5 separate regions of the Homo sapiens genome follow, and all the other regions are reported to be linked to region 1. Evidence: microRNA targets listed by miRTarBase, many of them from high-throughput screens and not tested one by one. Region 1 holds a microRNA gene; each other region holds the end of a gene's coding sequence.
What was found. Region 1 holds the annotated microRNA hsa-miR-206 (UGGAAUGUAAGGAAGUGUGUGG, at 3,411-3,432, opposite strand). A microRNA usually pairs through its seed, bases 2 to 8, with sites in the 3' UTR of a target mRNA and lowers its output. Matches are read on the target gene's strand: a 7mer-m8 pairs with bases 2 to 8, a 7mer-A1 pairs with bases 2 to 7 and ends in A, and an 8mer does both.

Region 1 (4,910 bases):
GATGTGGTAGCAGCAGTTTATTAATTTTCATTGCTTTATGGTTTTCTACTGTGTGAATATACTATAATTTATTTATTCTCCCAGCCATAGACATTGAGGTTGTTTGGTTTAACAAGGGGATAGCATTGACTAAACTGTTTCTCAAAGGAGGTGGAAAAATCTTTGATTCTTGCAGATTTTAAAGGAGAACTCTGGATTTGTATGTTGGCCTTGTAAAAGAATGGCAACACTTACCAGCCCGAAACATCTGGAAGTAGGACCCAGAAATTAGTGCTATAACCTGCCCTTTGGGTGATTCCGATGCAGCTCAAGTTTGAGAACCACTGAACTAATAGGAGTACCCACTGGTTTCTCTCTGTTTCTAGGGAGGTGTGAGCTGTGGGAGAGAGCTGACTAAGAAGAAGAAACTCCCCAGAAAGGTGGCCTGCCAGTCTTCACGATGTATGGGAGCAGGTGGGAAAAGAGGTAGGCAGAAAGGATAGTTTGAATGATGCTAGAAAATTGTCCTTCTCCCTGGGGGCTAGGCATTGCAGCCCTTTTATTTTCTCTTCCTGATGAAGACAAGTAAAACTAAGTGGAATGCATGTGGCCTTGGAGTCACACTTATCTGGGTTCAAATCCTACCAATGCTTTCCTGGCTCTTTTGCTTCTAGGAAGTTACATAACATCTTTTAACCTGAGTTTCTACATCTGCACAGCAGGAGAAGGTTGTATCTACTCTGCCTGCTTGTTGCGAGGCTTAATGACAAGGAAGGAAAGGTGCACTGTGTCCCTAGTGGGCACCATGGACAGTGTCAGGGGTGTGGGAAAGTCCTAGAGACAATCCTGACTGCTTTGGAGGCCAAGAAGTTCACTCTCAACTCCAGCCTGTCCTTTACATGTTTCCCTTCCTCAGCTGCAAGTGTTTGCACTTCATCATTGAAATTGTTGAAACTGCTGATCAGGAAACACAGAATGAGTTTAACCAGCGATGCCAACTTCTGCAAGATGGACTCCAGCTTGGGAGCTCTGTATGGAATAAATAAGATATCCCAGACATCAAAGCACTCAATAAGGCACTGTAGAAATGGCAACAAGGTAAAAGCCCACAATGATGGTGGTGGTGAGAAAGCAGGGCACCACAGAACATGGCTTGGTTCTAGAGTGGTCTGTGCAGGGTTACGTTGAAGCTTCTGTCTTGGCTTGTCCTCTCCTCCTTGGTGTGCATTCTCCTGGCCCTGTAGTCCTGGCATCTTACCTTCTGCCTCCTCCTGCCAGTGACATAGCTGTCTTGAAGCTGCTGCCTGCCAGCTCTTCCTCTGGCTAACCTCTGCTCCTTCTCTAGCTCCTCCTGGGGAGCAAGGAAGCAGGCAGTTGTGGGGGCAGAGGGCAGCCCATTGGTCTGAAATCAGGACTGAAAAGCACATGTGTCCAGCTTGCCAGCCAGAATGACAAACCTCTTTTTTGTGCAGTTTCTTCAATTCTGGACACTTTCTCCCACCATCTCTCTCTTCTCTTCTTTACTCACGTCCTGCCCCACCCCCAGCAGCACAGCCACCCATACAACATACCCCCAGTTTCTGAGCAGAGGACATGAAATTAAACTCCAGGATAGGAAAAGGAAGTGTATCATTAGAACAGGTATGATTTAGGAAAGGGAAAACGTCATTGGAAAGAAGGACAACCTTGAGCTATCCGCCTATTTTACAGACATGAAGACCAAAGTTTTTAGAATGAAGGACAGTAATTTTCATTGCAAAATATAATGTGCCATAATATGCTGATGTCAGAGACTTCATTTATTCAAAGCACCACTATCAAAAAACCAGGTTTCTCAACCTTAGCATGTTGACATTTTGGGCTGGATATTTCTTTGCTGCGTGTTGGAGGGTTGGGGTGGCCGTTCTGTGCATTGTAGGATGTTCAGCAGCATCCCTGGTCCCCAATCCCTAGATGCCAGGAACCCCCGAGTTGTGACAATTGAGAATGTCTCTAGACACTGCCAAATGCCCCTGGGGAACGACATCATCTCCAATTGAAGGGCCACTAATCTAAAGTGAGAAGTTTCTGTGCTCAGTTCTGTAGCTGTCCCATCTCTAGTAATTTACCATGTTCTTCCAAGTTCCTTCCACCCCCCCAAAAATACAGGTTTTATGCCCTTAAAGGCCATTAGATAACTGTCTGGTTTCTGGAAGAGGTGAGAGGCTTGTGTTGCAGGTGTTACTGAGCCCAGTTAGGGCAGAGGGGAGCCTTGGCCCAGTGCTCTGGGTGCTGTCGCCTCCTTGGGCAGGGGGCCCCTCATCACCAGCTGCTGTGCACTCCTCTGCCATCTCCTATGCAAACATGGTGCATCCTCCCTTCTTCCCTCCCTTTCCTCCTCTCCCATGTCCTTGTTCTGCTGCTGCTCAGTTTCATTTGACAGTCCTGTCTTGTGCATCTTGGCACATTTTGGTCAAATCTTCTCGGGTTTTCTTTTGTGGTTTTGTTTAAGAACTCAAGGTGTAAATGTAGTGTGGTCCCAGCTGTAATTTCTCACACACACTCACCCTAAAAACAAGGAGTCAGAGGTGTGGGATGTAAGAGCCATCCTGGAATGGGGGTTTAAGTGAGGGAAGGAGGCCTCTTCATCTTCCTCCCTTGTTCTGAAACTCTTCGTGGGGTGATGGCATGAGCCTTGGGTGACTGCAGCCTCCCCTCCTGCTCAAGGCTTCCCTCTGTAGATTCAGCACTTTCTTGGTGTGGGTTCAAGCCCTTTGGAGTCAGAGCTGGGAACACAGGGGTTTAGGAAACAGAGGAGAAAGGAACTTGCCTGTTAGTTGAGTTAATCGCTATTTTAGCATCTCAAGGTGTTTCTTCAAACAGCCTTGCAGAGTCCATTTGTGACAGGGTTGTGGTGTGAAGTGGAAAGGACAGCAGAGCAGAGTCAGGGGACTGTGACCCCGGATGAACTACTTATTATGGTTTCCTGAACCTCACTCACAGCACCTGCCTCAGTACAATGCAAGCCCTGAGAAACGCTTGCAATACACATGGCTTGAAAGAGATTATGATTCAGTTTGGTTCATAGAAACCTCTCATTTCAGAAGTAATATGACCAGAGGAAGGAACTAGGAGGGTGAGGGCTGATTCTGTGAAAAACCTTTGGGGGAAAGGCCTTTCCTCACCAGGCTGGCCAGAGGAGCCAGGTCTGGGAGGCTGGCCACAGCGGGGACTGTGGGACAGCAGTCAGTGTGCCTGAAACCTTGGGCTGAGCGAGGACGCCTCAAGAGGGGGAGATAGGGGTGTTCAGGAAGAGCCCAGATGGGATTCAGAGGCTCTTGCTTCCTTGGTGAGGGAGTCATTTGCTGGCACAAAGCCCTGATGAGGAAGAAGGTCACCAAACCTGTGCTCCGGGTGGTACCCTGGGGCCAGCGAGGAGGCACTTGCCGAAACCACACACTTCCTTACATTCCATAGCAAAGTAATCCATATGGGGATATAAAGAAGCATGTGGCCTCGGGAAGCAGTGTCATCCAGAAGCAGCCCGCATCTCAGAAGTGGGCCACTTGTAGCATCTTTCCTCCTTGCCCAGGCAGGAAACTCTTAGCGAGAAGATCACTGGGATCTCAACTCATCCTAAATCCCCCCCGCCCGACCAAATCATGCTGAAATAAATCTGTTGTGAGGAATGGCAGTGCTGCTTGGGACCAAATCCTTCCTACTGTTTGTTCACAGATAAGCAGCACCACGTTTCCCTGGCTTATTCTTGTGCAGCTACAGTCTATCCAGTCCTTTGTTATTACTACTAATTAATTCACTGCTGCTGTTTTTGTGCATTTTGAATGTGATTCTTTTTTAATGTTTGGGATCCAGTGAAGGGAAAATTAAAAAGAAGAGAGAATCCAACAGAGAAATTTTCCACATTCACGCAGAGAGCCACTCATGCTTAGAAACACACCGGCCCTCCTGTACTTCCTACTGTACGTCTATCTGTTTTGGGTGCTTGTTGATGGGCAGCAGCTGCCCATCCAGCATTCCAAGCACCATTGTTCACTGTGGGAAGGATCCTTTTGTCGGGCTTCTGCTCCCCCTAGCCCATCACCTGCCCCACAATCTGTGAGGCCTGAGCCTCAGAAGGATGAGGGACATTGGCAGCTGTTGAGCCACTCAGGGTCTGGATGGCCACCCTGGCTGGAGGGAGATGGGGTTTTGAACTTTGTGGTATCTGATTCTCTGCCAGAAAATGGGGAAACATATGCCAAAGGAAGAGTTGGCCCCCAAAAAAGGTTTGAGGCTCACAGCACTGGCTGGGGTGGTTAAAAACATTTAATCACAGTAATAAAAAATAAGAGGTAACTTTTTATAAGTATGTTTTCTATAACAGAATCATTACAGTGTTTTGCGTATGTGAGCACCTTGACTCCTACCTACTCTATGAAATGTAGCCATTTTATCTGATTTTACAGATGAGGAAAATGAGGATCGTAGAAATGTATTAATTATCATATTTATAAATGGTAATTATTTAAAAAAAACTAATCAGATTGGAGGCACAGTTTTGGATCAACCCATGGAGAGAGGCTTAGAAGGTAAAAAAAATGTTGAGAAGGAAGAAAAGGAAACACTATGGGTTTTTGACTTGGTGTACCTTTATCCTTTCTGTAACTCTGCGCTTGGGGTGTTGTTGATGGAGGTGGCTTAGAAACCATACTGTTTCTTAGGAAAATAGGAAAATGTCTCTAGCATCCCAGTCAAAATCTTTCGGGCTGACCTTGGGAATCATCCAATGGCTCATCCAATTCCATCCAATGGCTATGTAAGCTTCTGCTCTGAAAACACTGTTTTCTCCCATAGTCAAGTATGAACTTCATAGAAGTGAGAGTTTGGGGCTACCCTTCCTTCTCTAAGTTTGGGGGCAGTGGGCAACCAAAAACACACTATCAGGGGCTGAT
Region 2 (4,910 bases), not on the chromosome of region 1:
GTAAGACTAACTAAGCAAAGCACACTATGGCAAGGGCAATTACAGGCAGAAGCCCTTGTGCAGATAGGCCTCATTGGCTGGGCCCTAGGTGATGAACAAACTCAGCAGCAGAGATCAGAGAGCAGAAGGCATCTGCAGGTAGAAGGCACTGTGCAAGGAGCCAGGAGCAGAAGGCATTAGGAGGCAGAGGACAGTGGGAAGAAGGCATTCAGAAGCAGGTTTGGGACCTTCACAGGCAGAGGATACTGTACAGAGAAGTTTCACAAGAGGAATACATTCTGGGGAGGAAAATCCACAGGCCAAACACAATCCTAAGCAAGGAGCAGTCCCCAGAGGACATAGAGATGCATGGGTAGGAGACCGTCACAGATACAAACCTGGGATAGAAAGGAGGAGTCATGGTAATGGAGGAGGCCCAACAATAGGATCGACTTGCTGTTTCAGAATGACCCTCCCCTATTTTTCCTTTAGGTCTTTGTGTCACACTGTCACCAATTAAAAGTCCTACAAATACCTAGTTAGGAGCTACTGTTGCAGTCCTTGTCATTTGAATTAGTAAAAGCTCTTCCTTCCTTCCCATTGTAACAAGATGAAGGCCAAAGTTGGGGTGAGAAAATAGCTAGAGGGACACTAGTCCAATGGCCCTGAGGCCCCTACTCAGTGGCAGAAGGAGTTCTCGGAGTATTATGTCTATCTTTGGACTTCCTGATCACCCTTTCCTGTCCCTGGGTTGAATCAAGACTTGGATCGCATGCAGATTACACTGGTACACATCTAGAGGAATGAGTTGGAGTATGTGTTGGGGTCACCTTTGAGGAGGGCCTTTGAGAGATGTGTATTCAGAATTACTGTCAAGGAAGAGTTAGAGGGACCAGGGGTGTTTAAATGTGAGAAGAGTTGACCAAGACAGAATCTGAGAAGTATTTTCATCTATTTTAAGAGCTGGCATCTAGCGGAGGGATTAAAGACCACCAGTGGGTGACATACAGAAATGGACTTTAACTCAACTGAAGAATGCATCTTCTAAAACCACAGACAGCAGGGGCTTGTAAGGAACTGAGCTCCTGGTCACTGGAAGTGGGCACTAATGACTAGGTGGCTGTCTGTCTGCAGTGGTAATCATGAGAAGGATGGACCGCCCCCGCTCTCTGCCGCCACAATACAATATTCTTCATTAAGATTTGATGTGTCTAGAATTCCACAGTTCCTGTGCATGCCCAGTGTCTAGAGCTTGCTATTAAGTACTTGTTTACTTTTGTACAGAGAATGGCTTCAGGCAATAGGAATAAAGAAATCACACAGCTGAATACACCAAGTTATTACACTTCAAAAGAAAACTTTAACACTGACACATGTGATATCTTACCATTTATTATAATTGCGCACATTAGTGTGGATTAAGTATGATTAGAAACACTAAGCAATTGAAAAGAAGCAAAAAGGTAATGCATCCCTCTTCCTCAGATCTGCAAAATTCTGTGCCTTTTTAGACATGAGAGAGGCTGTTTTGGATCTAAGTCAATAATGGCTCTTGCAAGATTTCTTTCAATGTCTTGCATGTTGGTTCTAAAACTCCCTTAAAGGCAGACTATACCTTGAACGGGGGAAGCCAGCCTATCTTGGGCCTCTTTACCTTGCCTTTCATCCACTGGTCCTGCACTGAGACTCAGGGATAGCACCTCTCACCAACGGGGTGACTTTTATTTCCTTCACTCATTCATTGAGTGCCTGTGTGTTAGTGTCCACCACGTGCCAAGTCTGATGTTGGGGACTACAGCTGAGGAAGAGCAGTTGGTATTTAGTGTGGGTACATGCCCTCCAGAGGAAATCCACTACAAATAAATGGAATGTTCCTCTCTGATCATTTGGCAGGAAGAACAAGCCCACAAGCCAATGTGCATAGGGCTCAGAAACTGGAGAAAGACGTAGACATTTTATAATTAAATCAAGAGCAGAGGCCCTCATTTTGTATCAGAAATACTCTAAGGTTGTTCTTCCTTTCAAGGAACTTACAGAGTGATGCTGGGCCCACAGATGGCAGAGTCCAGCTGAACCTGAGCAGAGGATCGGCTGACTGCATGGACAGGCTTACATCTGCCCAGCCATCCAACGAGTTTCCATGTCCCAAGTACCTGGGGCCCCAGCAGTTGCCACTAGCTTAAGGCAGAGTCTAGACAGGAAAATGGGTCACTGAAAGCTCTCTGCTCAGATCAGCTAGCCCCCTGGAGCTTTTCCTGGATTCACAAGCTCCTCTTTGGTAATGTCTGTGAGTCAAATCTGTTCTCAGCTGAAAGCATCTCAGTTTGGAGGCATTTTCATGGGCGGAGAGGAGGGAAAGGGGCAGCTTGGCCCTTGAAGTACTTCATGGGGGGGGGGATAATTCAGGGATCCAGGATGCCCAGAGGAAGAGTGTGATTTCACACCTTCTGCTCTTTGCAAGCCTATGCCTTTGGGAGGCCTGAAGGGAGGGTGTTAACCTGGCAGGAACTGTGTACCCTCTGCACAGTGCTTGGCACACACTGAGCACAAAATCAATGCTTGCTTTTGTGGGTGCTGCTCTGGGAAGAGCATGGGCTCTGTAGCGTTCTGCGCAATGCAATAGCCACCTCTCTGAGTTCCAATATCCTCATGTCTAAGATGGGATGAGAATATCACCTTCACAGGATTATTATGGGGATTAATGCCATTACTCTGTGACAGTGCCTGCTATGTGGTAGAGCCTCAAGAAATGTTAGCTGCTTTTCCACCTCCTTAATCCTGCTGGGATCTATACACCCTAAAACCCACTTGGGAAGATTTATGTGTGAAGTTCAGGGAGCAGAATTGAGGGCAAATTAATCAGCTATCAAGATTCCAACAGACACAGATATCACTTTGATCAGTAGCATCCTAAAATCACATCCTACTGAATTTAAACCTAATTGTGTAAATTTTCCAACACATGCCAACATACCTGTAAGGGAACACTCAAATATAGTGAAAGGTGAGTGGAAGACCAAATGAAAAACTGCTATATAACTCAATCAAAAGCAACTAACTACTTTTACAAGTGTATGGAAATTTAAAAAAAATAGATATGGCAAATAGACAAGCTAAACACTAGCCTATGCCAATCCCTAGCATTTGATGTCTGCAATTTACCCACCAGGGATCATCAACAGTCTTCAACTTGGCCCATTATAAGCCTCAAGGGAGTCAGGACACACTGAACCCTACACTTCTGCCCACTTAAACTCATTAGAAAGCCAATCTGTCTTAGGGAAGCCAAGATGGAATTCCTGTTTGATCCTCTTTGGTTGAGCCTGAAATGACATCATGGGCATAAAGCGCTTTCTAAGCTACAAGAAGCTACACACACAAGCAATTATCATAGCATCATTAAGATACGATATTGGATGTATGCAACTTCAACTTGAGAAGGGCAAAAGCATGAAGAAATCAAACAGGGAGGGAGGAGGTGAGGGAAGGGGAGACAGCAACTTGGGGCAAAACTGGGGACAGCCAAATTTGTCCACGAGTCATCAGCTTCTGATCAGCCTGGCGGTGGGGGGTCGCTAAAAGAAAACAGAAGTAGCCATGAGACTGGAAACACATCAGCTAGAGGCCCTCAGGGTGGGTGACTGCTCCAGTCATCAGGAGTTACCACCTAGCTCAAGGTGTGTCTTCTGGAGAGAAGACCATCAGCATGGAGCTAGTGGAAAGCCTGGTTGCTACTGCCTTCAAGGGATATATTCTGCTCTGTGCTCAGACACCGTGATAAATTCCACTGGCTATGAGCATGCAAACACACATCTTCAGGCAGTTCTCATAATGTGGCCCAGAGGCTTGTTTCACTGAGCACCATGGCTATGCAGTCCTGATCTGAAGCTATGCGAGTGACAGTGAACAGAGAGCCCTGGACAAGAATCCAAAGACCTGGGGTGAGGTCCTGATTCTACCTGGGTTTCTCCAGGTCCCCTCCCTTTCTATATCTTTATTTCCTTGTTGCAAAATGGGGCTAACAACAGCGGCCGAGCGAGTATCCCAGGGTAGCTAGAGGGCTCGGCTCAGGTGCTGGACGGAAGGTGTGATTTGGAAGTGTCCTCATTGAGGGCCTTTGTCCATGCCACCTAAGATCTCAAAGTATCACAAGGCATAGGGACATGAGGACACAAGGCCCCCTGAACATAAGGAAGAGCCAAGAAAGATAGCTGTGTCTGGGGCTGAGACTCCAGGAGAGACCAGGGTGCATCTCTACTCCTTAATGAGTCTCTTGGCCACTTGTCCTTTGCAGTGCCAGCACCCACCTAGAAGAGCTTCTCATAGCATTTCCCACAGTGAATGGTGTCACGGTGAATGAAGATCTGATCCAGGAGATCGCCCATCGGTTTACTGCAAATCCCACACTGAAAAGAAAAGCAAGCTGGAGGTCAACACACAAAGCAAAGCAAGAGGAATGAGTGGAGTGGGAAGGGGATGCCTGAACAAGGTGGGCGAGCAGATGCTGTGAGCCCGTGGCACATCCTGGACCTCAGGACTTGCAAACATCACAAAATAATACAAAAAACATCACAAAATAATACAAAAAAAAGCCTTTTTTTTCAGTAGGGAGTAGTAAGCACAGCTAGCAGCTCAGCTACTTTCAAGGGCCAGTGGGCAAGCAAAGGGGAACCTGTTTGGCATGATTTGACCAGAAATGTGTTTCCCTGTGGTCAGCCGGTTCTCAGGAGAAGCTGCTAAGTGGGGCATGTTCTGCATTGCAGCACTTACTTAACCAGGAGCAAGCAAAGTTCAGGCCCTGTGGGGAGGACAGAAGCCTGCCTAACATTCTGTCAAGGCAAAGGGGAGGGTTGTTTTTCTCAGTGCACCCAGAGGTGACACCCTAAATGGATTGGAACCAACAACCTGGGGTTACAAAGTGCCACACACTG
Region 3 (4,910 bases), not on the chromosome of region 1:
AGGATGGTCTCGATCTCCTGACCTCGTGATCCGCCCGCCTCGGCCTCCCAAAGTGCTGGGATGACAGGCGTGAGCCACTGCGCCCGGCCACATTTTACTTTTATTATGCATTGGTTCCTTGAAAAATCCTCTGGGATAGGCCTAACAACTTTCAGTTATTCAGAACTCCCATCTCTCCAATCAGTTTAGCATCTGTCTGTTTTGATGTGATGTCGCATTTGCAGTAAGGAAGTGATGGCATTCACAGTGGTACCACTGTGTAGATTTCAGACAGCCCTTGCAATTCCCCTTTCTAGAAGTTCCTCAGATGTCCAAAGGCATGCCCATGGTTAGCAAGGATAAAGTTAGAGCTGGATTTTTTGTAGCCAGGTTTATTAGGGCACATGTTTAAAGTCAAAGGACCAGTTAGACTCTTAGTAATTGTTCCTCACCTCACCAGCTTATTTCCACTTGACCTTAATAATGCAGGAAATAGGAGAGTGAGCTAGGAAAGTACCCTGTTTTCTGTGGAAAGACGAGGACGAGAGAGGAAAGTTAGGGTGTTTGTAGGACCTTGCTGCAGTAAGAACAGCCCTGGTCACTAACCTATGTCAATCCTCAGCACCTTGCACTCCCTCCACCCCACAGTCCTAAGGAGCCTTGAGTGTCTTCCCCAGCACCTCCTCCGACCACACTCCTGGAGGCTTCCCTGGCAATGGTTTGGGTGTGGCCTTCCAGGCCTTTGTATCAGGGCAGGTCTCCTGCAGAGTCTTCTCTTTGTCATGGGAGAAGCTTCATTGTGCGTTGAGGCTACTTCTGTGTTATTGAGGAGTCTGGGCTTTTTTCTGATACCACGTTTCTTTTCTTTCCTGGGCCATTGTAGCAAGACACTAAGGGCGACTACCAGAAAGCGCTGCTGTACCTGTGTGGTGGAGATGACTGAAGCCCGACACGGCCTGAGCGTCCAGAAATGGTGCTCACCATGCTTCCAGCTAACAGGTCTAGAAAACCAGCTTGCGAATAACAGTCCCCGTGGCCATCCCTGTGAGGGTGACGTTAGCATTACCCCCAACCTCATTTTAGTTGCCTAAGCATTGCCTGGCCTTCCTGTCTAGTCTCTCCTGTAAGCCAAAGAAATGAACATTCCAAGGAGTTGGAAGTGAAGTCTATGATGTGAAACACTTTGCCTCCTGTGTACTGTGTCATAAACAGATGAATAAACTGAATTTGTACTTTAGAAACACGTACTTTGTGGCCCTGCTTTCAACTGAATTGTTTGAAAATTAAACGTGCTTGGGGTTCAGCTGGTGAGGCTGTCCCTGTAGGAAGAAAGCTCTGGGACTGAGCTGTACAGTATGGTTGCCCCTATCCAAGTGTCGCTATTTAAGTTAAATTTAAATGAAATAAAATAAAATAAAATCAGTTCCTGAGTCACACAATCCACATTTCGAATGCTCAGCTTTCACATGTGGTCAGCAGCTAGTATATCTGGACAGCGCAGGCAGGGAACATTTCGATAGAAAGTTCTGTTGGGCAGCAGTACATGCCCAGGGCATGAGAGGACCTATGGGGGAGAAAAAGGGTCCCAGAGGGACCCCTTATCTGCTTATCTTTCTACAGGTTAATTAGGTGAAAATAAGCATCAGGGGCAGCCACAAACTGGAGAGAGCAGTGGGGCAGGGTGGGGCAGGCTACAGCATTCTGGCAAAGGAGATCCAACACAAGCCGATGGGAAGCACGGAGAAGGGATTTCTTTTGACTGGGAGGATTGAGAAAGATGATAGAGAAAAGGAACAATTTGAGCTGCACACTAAAATCTAAGGTGAGGTTTTACAGCTGGGAGAAAGCACTCCATGCAGGTTCTTAAGGGTCTGGGAATGAATGACAGGTCGCTGATACAATGGTACACATGTCAAAAAGTTCAGAGACTTCTTTCTGTACAGGGAAAGTTATGTCTCTCCCTTACTAGCCAGTGGCCTTCCCTGGAGTCGCCTGGTTTCCAGTACATTTTCATGGATAGACTGCATACGCATGTATATATATGTATCTATCTGTGTTCATAAATGTGAAGGTGCTGTCCCCAGGCTGCTGGTACTGGGTTCTGCAGATTCCTTTTTATACAAGTGCTCCCCATAAGCAGGGTAGAGGGCTGGGAGTGAGGGGAAGTTGACTACTCCTCCTAACCCTTCTCCTTAGTGGAGGGTGTGTCAACTACTCATTTTTGGCACCTGGCTGATGCAGGGCCCACTCAGTCATCTGCAGGGACTAGGTAGGTAATGGAAATGAATGTATGAAATGGGCAGGTTGGACAGAAGTGGGGAATCTGGGGAAAATGGGGAATGCCTGCCTTGCTTGAGGCATTCAAATTCAATTCAAACAACAGTCGTAACAACATGGCATTGACCAAACCAAATACATCCGTGAGCTGATTGGCTGCTATTTTGGCCCTTTGGCAAACTTTAGATGGAAATTTGGATCGAGCATGGCTCTTGGGTCACTAGTGGCCCATAACGTATGTGAAAGGCCCCTGAGATAGTCCTTAAAAAGCAGGTTATGCAAAAATCAGGTATTTTATCAAATGTGTCCTGCCTATACATATTAAAATGGATGCCCCAAATCACAGAATATACTGTTCTGTGTGCTTGGGCAGAGTTCAAGGAACTGCCTAAGAAGCAGGACCTTTCTCATTAACCCCAAATTATACTGAACTCAGAATTGATAGGGCTGGGCAGAGACTGTCAGGAGCAGTGTTTCAGATCAGTGAACATTTAGGCATTGTTACCTCTCAATCATACGTGTGTTTCAGGCTGCAAAGGGAGCAGTGGTGTGGAGCAGACAAGGCCATGGGGTGAATATGGGGAAACTTACGCTCCCACTGTGCCCAGGACAGTCTGGCCACTGGTGTGGCCAACAGGTATGTGGGAAAGTTGAAAGGGCAGGCCAACATAGGAAAGGCGCTTGGAGAACTGTTTCAAACACTGTCTACTGTTTTTCCTCTATACAAAGCAATGGCAGTCCAGTGTTTTCCAAAACTCACAGCCAGGGCACTTGAATTTTGGTCCCATTTTCTTCTGGATTTCAGCCTGTCCTCTTCAGTCAAGCTGTCCAAACTGTTTCATGAATAAAGAGAACCATCTGGAGGTTTGACTTATTCTCCCCAGAAATTTTACTTTGCAAAGAGAAGGAAAAGGGTACCTGGCAGGCTGTGAGTTGGTAACAAGAACTTTGATTTTATTCTTTGAGGAATAAAAGGTAATTGATGCAATGTAGCTATGAAAACTTATTGTACTGTAACACTGTGATCAAGAACATGATTTTTTTCTCCCTGCCTTGGTGGGGCTGGGCAGAGCCATCATGTTGCACAACCCCAGAGAACACTCATCCTGTTGTAGTCTATGTGAATGATACCTCCCTTGGTGTTGTGCAGTGCACAACCTGTGCAGCCATACATGACAGCCCTGTATTGTGACCTAGGTGTGTGTGAGATGGTCTTTTCCGCCTTTTGCTACAGAGTTGCCCTTCCAGTTAAAAAAGTTAGAAGGCAAATCTTATTGAGAAACAAATGGGTGAACCCCGAAAGGTCTTGACTTCTCCATGGACTTGATCTTCAGACCAGTTTTACTGGGCTATGCACAAATGGCTGTATATATGAATCTTCCCCAGTATGTGAAGTTCCCATGGTATAAACTATTAGTAAATATAGCTACAGCAGGGAAAACCAGGCTCACAAAATGGCTACATTTAGCAAGACAAATGATTTGAGGACAGAAATCTTTTAAATCAATTTTTAGTTTTTAAATGACTCCCGTCTCCAGTCCTCTCCCTGTGTTTTGACAAACGGCTTTGGCTTCTTATCCACATCGGTTTATTTGACCTCCTTTTTCCATCAACTACCAAAATGAAAACTCTGCTGCAAGAGCGAGGAGAGAGAGTGCGAGCAATTTTAAACATCCCTTAGCAGTGAGGCAGAACATGCTACAGCCATCAAGTTCTAGTTGTTCATTCTATTTATTGAGAAAAGCTTGTAGCCCGATTTCTTTTACGCGAGTACATTTGAGCAAGCAAAGTTTATAGAGATGACTTACCTCATTACATTAGAAGAGTGATTTGCTATCTCAGCATCTATAAGCAATTTTAACAGACATTTCTGGATGAAGAAAAGCTTTTGTAAATATATGCGAAAGACACAATTTCATCAAGCATTAAATTGGAGGTGCCCTGGAAAAATATTACATTTGTGCACTCAATTAGCTTGATTGTGGCTGAATTTTGTCCACTGAAGGCAGCATTTCTGCAGAAAAACAGAAGCATTCCCTATGTCAGCAGGTTTCCTGAAACAAAAACACTTTCCCCTGAAACAAAAACACTTTGCCAGTCCTCTTTTGCATTTGTGCTGTTCCCAGCTCTGTGTCCCTAATCAGGCCTCTCGGTCTTGTTCCTCGCAGTAGAATGTTAGAGGAGAGGGAACCAGATAGAAATCCCTGACAGAAATCCAAACTCAACAATTCCAGCTTTAAATAGCCTGCATTCGGTGCAAAAGCTAGGCAAGCTCTGGGCAAAATTGGGAGGGAGTCAAAGGTAGACTTAAGTCTTCCTGGTCTCCTTACAGGGTCTGTAGGACAGCTGTGCCTCCTGCTGCTCCCAGGACTCTGGTGGCCTCCTTACTGCTCTGGGAAGGGCATCTCCCAGCTACTCCTTGGTATGGCTGTTAGCCCATGTCCTTTTCCCTGGGATGAGTCTGCAGGACCCACCCTATCTTCTATCTTGGAATGGAAGTTTTGTCCTCCTAGTACAGGCATGAGAAGAGTTAGGAAATGAATGGTTGGGGTACAAGAGGACTTTCTTGTGCCCCTAAAATCAGTGAAGGAAATGAGCTAAATATTTAGGGATGATCGTGGCCCTCCTCCAACACACCCCTGACCCCCTTGCTG
Region 4 (4,910 bases), not on the chromosome of region 1:
TTATGCATCACGAGGAAATAACTAAAATACATACCAAGAGAAAAATACCTTGCCATCGGATCATCAACAAGTCTTCTATTTACAAACTTCAAAAAACACAAAACAACATTCATGTTTTAAATGCTTTCTACTTGTGGTTCAAGAAGCACTAGATTTAGTAAGAAACTCTACCTATATACTTAGTTTGAAGTTAGTAACTTCCTGAGATGCTAAAGACTTACAGCCTGCGATTATACAAGGATTTACACATGCTTCCTCTGGTGCTTTACTTCCCAAACCTAAAAAAGCAATGAAATAGATGTAAGGAAGGAGGGATTTAAACCTTTTAAAAAACTTTTGCTGACTTATATTACTGTAAAGATTTGTTTGCTCAATAGTAATCATTAAACTACAAAGTAATTCAATTTTAAATGGCAAAATTGCTTTATTTCAGACTAAATAAATTCCTTTTCTTGAAGCCTAACCATCCAGACTGAGTAGTTAAAAATATTTAGAAATGCATCTCACCATCCTACTCTTTCGTATGGTAGAAATAGATGTAAAAACACAAAACAAACTAGAAACTTAAGAAATCTGTCCCTTTTGATTTTGAAGAGCTTATCCTTTAGCAGTACGGTTGCTCCAGCGACCTTGGTCTCTCAGAGCAGCAGCATCACCGAAATTTAGAGCTTATCCGATTCCTTCACTTTGCTCACAAGAACGATGTGAACTAAGAGATTAACTGACAGCTTCAAACATCATCCAACTAATTAGTGGGATACTCATTAAGTTGGTCTGACTGGGGTCACCTCATCACTGGGCACAGTCATCCTGCCAGCTACCCAGCACTGCTGGAGGCAGGAAGTTTATTATACTACTGGTTTAGGATTTTTTTTTAATCACGGAGAAAAGAGCCTCTAAGAATCTCTGCTGACAGTAAACTTGTCTTTTACTCAGTGACTTCACTCCTTTCCATATCACAAGCCCTGTCCCTAAGTCTCACCTCTAATTACCCCATCTGCCTCCTTAATAATATACCATCTCTATACCAATAATCTACCAATATACTACCAATCTACTATGCCATCTATATACCAGTAATACCCCATCTGCCTCAACATACCATATACCAATAATCTGCCAATATACTACCAATCTACCATACCATCTATATACCAGTAATACCCCATCTGCCTCCTTAACATACCATCTATATACCAATAATCTACCAATATACTAGCAATCTACTATGCCATCTATATACCAATAATACCCCATCTGCCTCCTTAATAAATGACTTATCTCTAATTACTTGACTGGAAATCATTTAGCCCCTTTGCCTATTAGTTACTTTATTCGTCCCATGTCAAAAAGGCCCGATAGCTTTTTGATTCATTTATTCCTGTTCCCTGTAATGGAGGATACTTCCTAGTACCTTAATCTTGGGGGCCACAGCACTGAACTGAGGTGCCCTAACTTGCCAACAGCAGGATGACAGCTCCGAGGCGGAGGACTCCAAGGGCTCCTAACCTGCTGTTTTCCAGAGGCACCCTCTTCCACTCAATTGGCTCTGCCTCCCTGCTCGCTCTGTGCTGAGAATTCAGTAAAACCTACAGGTCAAGTGTCGGGACAATAAGTCATTCCCAGAAGCCGAGAACAAAGATGTTCTTTTCGGCTTATCCTCGGCATTGCTGACAGTGGCCCTGATAAATCATTGTGAGCTTAAGTACCATGTGAGAACTGATCCTAGAATGGTGTTTCAAAATTTCCAGTTCAAATTTATTTCTCCAGTCTCCAAAAACAGTTAAAATCAGGCAGTTAACTTTGCAATGGTGTTTTACTTGCCCAAGCCCTTTCAAGTTTCAAAGAAAGATAAAAACATAACTTGCAACAATTTTTCATCCCTAAATAATGAATGAATGAATCACTATGGAAATACCACGAAACTGCTGTTGTGGTCACCGTGTCCCAGACTTGCAGTCAAAACTCCTAGGTTTTAATTTCAGTTTGGCCATCAACTCAATGAGCAAGTTATTCAATAGCTTTGCCTCATTTCCTATGAGAAATGCTACCAGAGTATAAAGATTCATTTACAAAACAATGTGAAAAACACTTTGTGCTTAAATTCTGTAACCGTTCTTATCTATAGGCTTTAAGTGCACAATACAAAACAAGTACAATTTAGTATTTCTTCTTCTAATCTACACTTTTAGTATTTAATAATTATTTCCATTTGTTACTGATAACCATGTCATTATTCTGACATGACAACAATTCAAAAATAAGGGACTACGAAGCCTCAATGACAGCAGATAATTTTGATCACCAATTAATGTCATGAAACAACTATTTTGAGACATTTTCAAAATGCTTTCTGTATCCCTTTGGTCACTAAATATTAAATCTGGCTTCCCCTGCTTTTAAGAAACCCTGGTTCACATGGCCATAATCATGCAGCTGTGCAGACAGTTCCTTTAAAGAAAATGAAAAAGTCTCACAAACTAAAATCAAGAGTAACAGTGAACCATATTTCAATTTATTGACATTGTCAATTTATGAACAAGACAGGATTTTTTTTTTTCCCATGGAATGAGATCCTTTTCAATCTGCCATAACATGTGCCCACACATCTTCACCTTGGAAATGTAGCATTTCAAGCTTTAGTCAGGGTCTAGGAGGAAAAAGAAAATGCAAGTTGCTGGCTAGTTCTCTGTGTTTTCTTAAAAACTCAACATGAATATAAGAAATAACTTCCTTATAGTGAACTGTATAACTGTGGCTATCATTCACATTGCCGTGGCTCAGATGTAAAAAGTGCTGGTTCAAGTACACAGGCTTAGTCAAGCAGGCATTTTCCTGCTGAGTAAAAGTAAACACTCTCCCAGAATAAAGAAACTACTTTGCCTTTAAAAGACACTAACATCTCCTTGTGCTAATGAGGTGGGGTCTGTAACCCTGAAGGGCATAACAGAGAGGGGCTAATGCTTTGTTTAAGGGGATCGGACACTACTTCCTGACCCCCAGGACTTTGCAAAATCTCAGCATTAGATGCAGTCTGGCAGCTCTGAGCCGAGTGAGGCTAAATGATTTTCTGTTAGCTTACTGTTAAAACAAAACAACCCAACATAAAACCAGGTCTCATTACTCAGAATTATGAGATTAGACAGAGAGCCCCTAGAAAAAGGGCTAAATTCAAAACACTGCATCTCCAGACTTGTAATAAAATATTTACTAATTCAAAATGAAAATGAAAAGTGCTTAGGGGAGACAGTTCCAATAAGTAAAATTGCTCATAACCATAAGCTGCCAAAGGATTAATATTTATCACATTTCTGTGCTATTATGGGTCTGAAGCTTTTTAAAAGCAAAACAAGAAAAATTAAATCTGAAAAACATCTCTCTGATAATTTGCCTTGCCTACTTTTGAAATAACAATGTCAAGAAAGTACTTTAGAGATCAAACCACTTTTATAATGTGGAACACAAAAGTCTACACTTATCAACTGTACAGACCTTTTTATTTCACGAGAATTTAACTTTACATCACCAACATCTTTGGAAAAGTAAAATGAACCAAACCCTCTGAAAGCATAATAAATTAGCAAAACAGTATTCGCTGCGGGGTCTTGCAGATTTTATTGCTTGATACAACAGCAGGACCCTTGCCTGTGCCTGTAGTTATTATGTTCGGGAAGTAGTGATTTGTGAGAACATTAGTGGTTGTGGGGGAAATAAAAATGTAAAGAACTGTAGTTTTTCATGCTCTTGGACTGTTATGTAACTCCAATTGCAATTATACAAGTGGGGAGTTCATCCTCCAAATTATTTGATTTGTGCAGACAAATGAAACAGGTTTAATTCAAATACGATGGCTCTCTACCTAAGCATTGCTAAATGAACTGAAAATCAATGTGCCAATTACTTCTGCTTGTCAGGGCCCAAGAAGACTTTCTTTTTATTAGGCCAGGGGACTTCTATAACCTGCATGCTTTAAATTATACCATCCCAATAACTAACTTCCAAATACACTGACTAAAAAATGAATAGAACCCAAAACTAAAATTATTTTGATCTTTATGGTGCTCCAAAAACTTAAGATGCAACTGTTCTTCTAAATAAATCCATAACTTACAGATTATTCCTTCTTTACTTTCACAATTTTTACGTTGCTGCCAGAAGTCTTCTCAGCATTTGCTTTGAATTCTGTCTTCAGTGCATCTCTCACTGCTTTTGCACAGATCTGGGAGTATCGGATGTAGCTGGGAGAAAATGAGAGAAGGTATATGGTTAATTATCAATATTCCAGCCAGACAGCTGTTACTGTGTTTTCGCTTTTCTTCCTGTACTTTTTATTTTGGTTTGGTTGTACCTTATTGTAGAATTGGATTTAAAAATATGACTAATGCCAAAAAGTATCTATACAAAGAAAAAGAACTAGAAAAAAATGTACCAAAGTATTAACTGGTGTTTGGATGGATGATCTTTGATTTTTCTTCTTTGTACTGTGTTTTCTCTTTAGTGTATATTAATTCAAAATGAAAGATGCATAAATGTTTTTAAAAATCCCACAGCATAGAAAAAAAGAGACTGAAATGTTTAGAGACTATAACATGAATCATGAATTCTCTCCTCGATTTCTCTCCTTAAAACTTTAATTATATTATTCTTGGAAAATGAGGTATACATAAGAGAAAACTATTTTGAATTAAAACAATTCGTTCTAAATTATTTAAACTCTTCTCTGAGAATACTGAATTCTGTCTCACAAGTCTGCCACTGAAAATAACCTCCTAATGAAGATTTCTAAATCAAACTGAAAAGTGCTTAGAGAACATCATCAATTCTAGCAAAACTGTAAAACCTGCTTCCTGTTTGGTAGATGGACTCCCATCAACACTGTAGTTTCCAAAAGATGTCAGATCACCTTTCCC
Region 5 (4,910 bases), not on the chromosome of region 1:
TTTATATTTTTTGTAGAGATGAGGTCTTGCTTTTCTAAGACCAGGCTGGTCTTAAACTCTTGGCGTCAAGCAATCCTCCCATCTCAGCCTCTCAAAGCACTGGGATTATAGGCATGAGCTGCTGCACCCGGCTAATCTAACATATAAATTCCTTAGGCTTTCTGCTCTTCAGCAGAAATAGCTATTTTGAGCTATTCTCATGTTGCAATGGTTTTAATAAGGCTTAAGTTAACAGCTTTTAGTTGGCTTTTCTTCTTCCACAAATTCATCCTCACTGTTACATGATAGTTTGGTTAAATACTGTTTTCCTTAAGAATTTTGAATATTTTGTCCCCTTATCTCATGGCTGCAATACTCATCCAGTATTGCTAGCAAGTCTGTTGTCTGCAGTGGTCAATTCCTTATTCTGGGGTTGGCACCTTCCACTGTAGCCTCTGCAATTTCCTGCTAGGGCTATGGCTTACTATTGTGGCTTCCCTTCTGCTTCTTTTTTGGGGATTTACAAAATTTCTGATCTAATAAAAATCTTTCCTGTGTTTTGCACAAATCCCAACATATGTATTAACTTCCTTAAAAATATACCTTTAAAAATCATTCATAATGATTTCGTGTTAGAAGGAGAGATTTCAGCACGTGCTCAAATTGAGACAAGATGCTCTTATTTTTGTCTGTTTGGATGGATCCATGTGAAACTATATCCCTGGGGATGTAGAGAAGGACTTTTATTGTTACTGTATACTTTCCTTTATTTGGATTTCTGCTTATTAATTTCCCTTTGATTCAAGATAATAGAGCACACGTGTTGAATATCTTCCTTCTGCGTCCCCTGCCCCACCCCACCAATGCAGCTGCCGGCTTTCTCCACATGCTCAAGAGCCCTATATGTGCTGCTTACTTGTGTAGACAGCATTCAAGGGCTCCTACTCTTCTGTTTTCCAGTTGGGTTTGCCCAGTGGGAGGTACCGACAGGAGATCAGACAGCTGGGTGGCAATGAGGATGGGATATTTATTACCTGGTCACCCCACTCTCCTCCTCCCATCCATACTTGAACACCTTGTTTTGGCTCCACTCTTTTACTGAAGGCAACTGCCATCAAGCAGCCTTTTGCATACAGGGACCCTCATTTCTTCACGTTGATCCTTCTGGCATAGGGGTAGCTGTTGCTCCCAAGGACATAGCATGGAGAACCATATACCATTACTAGCTTCTCTACATGCTGCCCATAACTTTGTAACTAGTCCCTTTATTAACCCCTTCTCAAATTAGCTTGAAAATAATTTATTTTTGCCCTGGGCCCTGACCAATGCAGAAACAAAAACAAAACAAACAAAAACCAAAGCAATAATGTATACAGGTAAGTTTATATAGTTTGGTCTTTTTGCTGTTTCATAACAGAATACAATAAGAAAGAATATAGGTGAAGAAAACTTACTTTAAAGGAAATATAGCACAAAGAGAAAGTAATAATAAATTGTTTGAGCAGAAACTTAAACTGAAGTTTCTGTCCCTTTTCCTATTTGTGTTGCTACTGGGTTTCTGGGCCTAGAGGGAAAGCAGGCATGAGTGAAGTTCCGCCAATGCATGTCTTTATGTAGCACTGTGGGATCATACCACAGAGATTTATAGAATTTCAGAGTGGGAAGGAGCCACGGGGACTATTTAGTGCAGCAATGAACAGCACAAAGCACTGCAAATTTGTGATATAGCCTGGATTTAATTTGTGAAGCAAAGATTTAAATACCACCCCATGCTGTTGCTTGTTCAGTGTGTCTAGTGACTATAAACATTTTTTATGGCTAAAATATAGAACTAATTTTCACACTGGCATTTTGAACAGTAGCTTAAAATGGGAACAGGTAACATTCACTGAATGCTCGCTGTGTGTGAGAGAGTGTGTTCAAAGCTTTACAGGCATCATTTCACTCAACCCTCAGCTGAATGCCATGTAGTGAGTACTAGTGTTATTCTAATTTTACTGATGAGGAAAATAAGGCAAAGAAAAGTTAAGGGACTCGCCCATCTTTACAAGGCCATTCATAATGTGATAGAGCCAAGATTCAAACCTGAGTAGTATGACATTGAGTCCCATGTGCTTATCCACTAAAATTGTTCCTCTTGTTACAACAGCTATGCAGAAAAACTATATATATATGTGTAAATACATATGTAAATATATATATAACAAATACTGCTTTATGTCTAACAACATACCATATATGTTCCACATTATTAAATACACCATGATGCTGCTTTAAATGACTGTATAATATTCTGTTGTTTTAGTACGTTTGCTTAATCAATTTCATTGTTAGATATTTGCTCTATTTCCCCCTCAGTTTATTTCCAATCCTGACTCCTATTATAATCTCTGACCCCAGCATTTTGTTAAGCTTCATAACCCCATCTGTAAAATGATAATAATGACGATTATTTTTGTCATTGAGTGATTAAGTACATATATAATTTTAGCTAATGATTATTTATTATAATTATTATTCAATGGAATGTTAAACATTGCTGTTGGGGAGTGGGGCTCTAGGGGATGACTCTGGTTTTCTCCATTTTGCTTACCATTATATAATTTTTCATATTTAGATGTATTGTGTACTAAGGAATATGAGTTGGAGTTTTTTAAAAAAACATTTAATTGAAAATATGTATGTTAAAATATGCTTTAGCTCTTCTCTCCTACAAATGGTTTTATTGCTCACCAACAGTCACCAGTCCAGGCTAAATTCATTTTTTTTACTTCACTGAACAGTGCTTGTCTGCATTGTTTCACCACTGGTCAATACTTCACATGCTCTATGCAATCAGAAAATGATTCCAAGGACACTTATCAATCAAAATGCACAAGCCTCCCTCTCAATGCTTGGTATTTATTCCTGACGCATGTGCTTCTATCAGACAGAGAGAGTGTTATAGGTATTAGCAATTCACAGGCACTTCTTAGAAATGCTGGAAAGGAGTTCTTATTTTTGCTGTGAGGGTGTTGCCCTATTATCAACACCTCATCTTCCTGTATCATCTTCCGACAATCTTTGTGAGAATTTGATTTGCTATCTTAATGCTAGTGAGACTCAGGCACTGATGCATTTATACCTGGGCTCTGAGCAGGGCTGAAATGGTAGTGAGCTGATGTTTTACTCAACAAGAAAATAATCAGTGAAATATATCTTTGAAATAGATTATTATCCTATTTGTAAAAAGGAATTAAAAGCATATAAAACCAGAACTTAGCCTTTACTCTTTGGAATGCAAAATGCAATTGTGTTCTTCATAAATGATCTCATGACAAGTGATTTAGCAAAAAAAGTGCATGACAGAGAAACTGCATTTTAGACAAAACCGCTTTGAACCTATTTCACCTATTAAAGGAAAGATTGCTAATTGGACATAAATGTTAATAAAAGACATGTGACAAAAATCTTCAAGATATTTTTTCTTTTATTTAAAATGTTAGCTATCACAACACATCATACAATGAAATGAAGACATTAGAATCACATTGAAACTTTTAAAAACATCTCTATATAGTCACAAAACATGAAACATGCTTCAGAGATACAAATACAGTGTAATACCAAAATCTCAGTACATTTTCACCATGAAAACAAATAGGAAAAGCACAAGACTGTCAGGAGTTTCCTTCCTTTTCCGCAGTAGCTGACACAACTGCTTCAAAGCAATGATTTTTTTTCTTTAGGGACTGTATCATTGACAGGTTTTACAATTTCATTTAACACTGTGCTTTGTTGAGAAATAACCACTTATTTCTATTTTAAGGGAGTCATCATATTGGAATTAAAACACATGTTTACAATACATATTGGCACAATATGAAAAATAAACACTTTTTGAATTTTCAACCCCAAACAATTGTTATTAAATAAATAATTATTCCTCATAGTGCATGTCTTAATTTACCTGTCATTGCCCATTGACACAAATGAAGCTGAATAAATAATGTTAGGTAGTTTATTAACGTCTTCTTTCATAATTCTGCATTGCACTCCTTTCATAAGCCACTGAAAACAAAGAAGAGATAAAGTGTTTTTTAAGTGAATTCACTGAGGGAGTTACACAACTAAAGTTCAGGGCATATAGTAATTTATTTTAAACTCATAATGACATTTTCCCTCTACAGAAGTATTTCTAAGAATGTTATCTGCACATCTTCCAATCCTGCCTCAGTCTCTATTCTGATTGGAAATGATCTAACCACAGAACTCGGTTTCATTCATCATTCATCATATACTTGGTGCCCCCAAAGCATATTTCCACAATATATTGCAGTGTTGATTCTCAGCAGCTTTCTCAAGCAGTGGCAGATACCCATAGTGAATTCTAGAAAGGACAATGCCTAAAATAACCAGGAATACTAGTAGGATAAAAACCAAATGTGGGACTTTTATTCTAGCAGAGACCATGGGCCAAATCTAGAATACCATTTGTTCTTGTAAAGAGGTTTATAGGAATACAGACACACTCATTCATTTACATATTGTCTATGGCTGCTTTGGCCTAAAATAACAGATTTGGGTAGTTGCAACAGAGATTACATGGCTCACAAAGCCTAAAATATTTATAATCTGTTTCTTTTCAGGAAAAGTTTGCTGATCTTTGTTCAAGGGGCATCTAATTGTGTAGGGGTCTCTTCCTACCTTGTGGATACCTCCCAGTGATGGACTGCCCTCAAGACTAAAAACAGCCCATTTACCATAGGTAAGTCAGTTGAGCCATCTAAATACCATACTGTTTAACTTTTCACTAGCACCTTAATGGCCTGTGAAGCATTAATTATTGCTTCCAAAGGTATTTAACATATAGCTAGCAAGTAATTTAAATACATTGATTATCTGGACAAAAAAATGCCAAAATTGTATATTATATTATATTATATTTATTA

Region 2: miRTarBase lists ZNF185 as a target of hsa-miR-206. Seed matches in the 3' UTR shown: 8mer at 1,844-1,851.
Region 3: miRTarBase lists ANXA2 as a target of hsa-miR-206. Seed matches in the 3' UTR shown: 8mer at 1,120-1,127.
Region 4: the mRNA of ATP5F1E is a reported target of hsa-miR-206. Seed matches in the 3' UTR shown: 7mer-A1 at 2,565-2,571.
Region 5: miRTarBase lists TAC1 as a target of hsa-miR-206. The part of its 3' UTR that is shown has no 7-base or 8-base seed match.

What each region holds. Positions count from the first base shown.
Region 1 is chr6:52,142,923-52,147,832 of GRCh38, reverse strand. It overlaps MIR206 (microRNA 206), which reads right to left and starts at 3,484; the gene lies at 3,399-3,484. It overlaps LINCMD1 (long intergenic non-protein coding RNA, muscle differentiation 1), which reads left to right. Exons shown (of 3, transcript NR_131248.1): 2 at 366-465; 3 at 896-1,019.
Region 2 is chrX:152,969,918-152,974,827 of GRCh38, reverse strand. It overlaps ZNF185 (zinc finger protein 185 with LIM domain), which reads right to left. Exons shown (of 25, transcript NM_001395254.1): 24 at 4,287-4,385; 25 at 1,354-3,554. The coding sequence ends at 4,287. Among named protein-coding and RNA genes, the nearest start is that of PNMA5, 22 kb to the left of the region's middle.
Region 3 is chr15:60,343,642-60,348,551 of GRCh38, reverse strand. It overlaps ANXA2 (annexin A2), which reads left to right. Exons shown (of 13, transcript NM_004039.3): 13 at 863-1,401. The coding sequence ends at 922. Among named protein-coding and RNA genes, the nearest start is that of ANXA2, 52 kb to the left of the region's middle.
Region 4 is chr20:59,026,192-59,031,101 of GRCh38, forward strand. It overlaps ATP5F1E (ATP synthase F1 subunit epsilon), which reads right to left. Exons shown (of 3, transcript NM_006886.4): 2 at 4,112-4,238; 3 at 1-2,650. The coding sequence ends at 4,115. It overlaps SLMO2-ATP5E (SLMO2-ATP5E readthrough), which reads right to left. Exons shown (of 6, transcript NR_037930.1): 5 at 4,112-4,238; 6 at 2,487-2,650. It overlaps TUBB1 (tubulin beta 1 class VI), which reads left to right. Exons shown (of 4, transcript NM_030773.4): 4 at 1-463. Among named protein-coding and RNA genes, the nearest start is that of ATP5F1E, 3.7 kb to the right of the region's middle. RefSeq lists an enhancer at 2,623-3,153.
Region 5 is chr7:97,738,993-97,743,902 of GRCh38, reverse strand. It overlaps TAC1 (tachykinin precursor 1), which reads right to left. Exons shown (of 7, transcript NM_003182.3): 7 at 3,431-4,029. The coding sequence ends at 3,983. Among named protein-coding and RNA genes, the nearest start is that of TAC1, 9.4 kb to the right of the region's middle.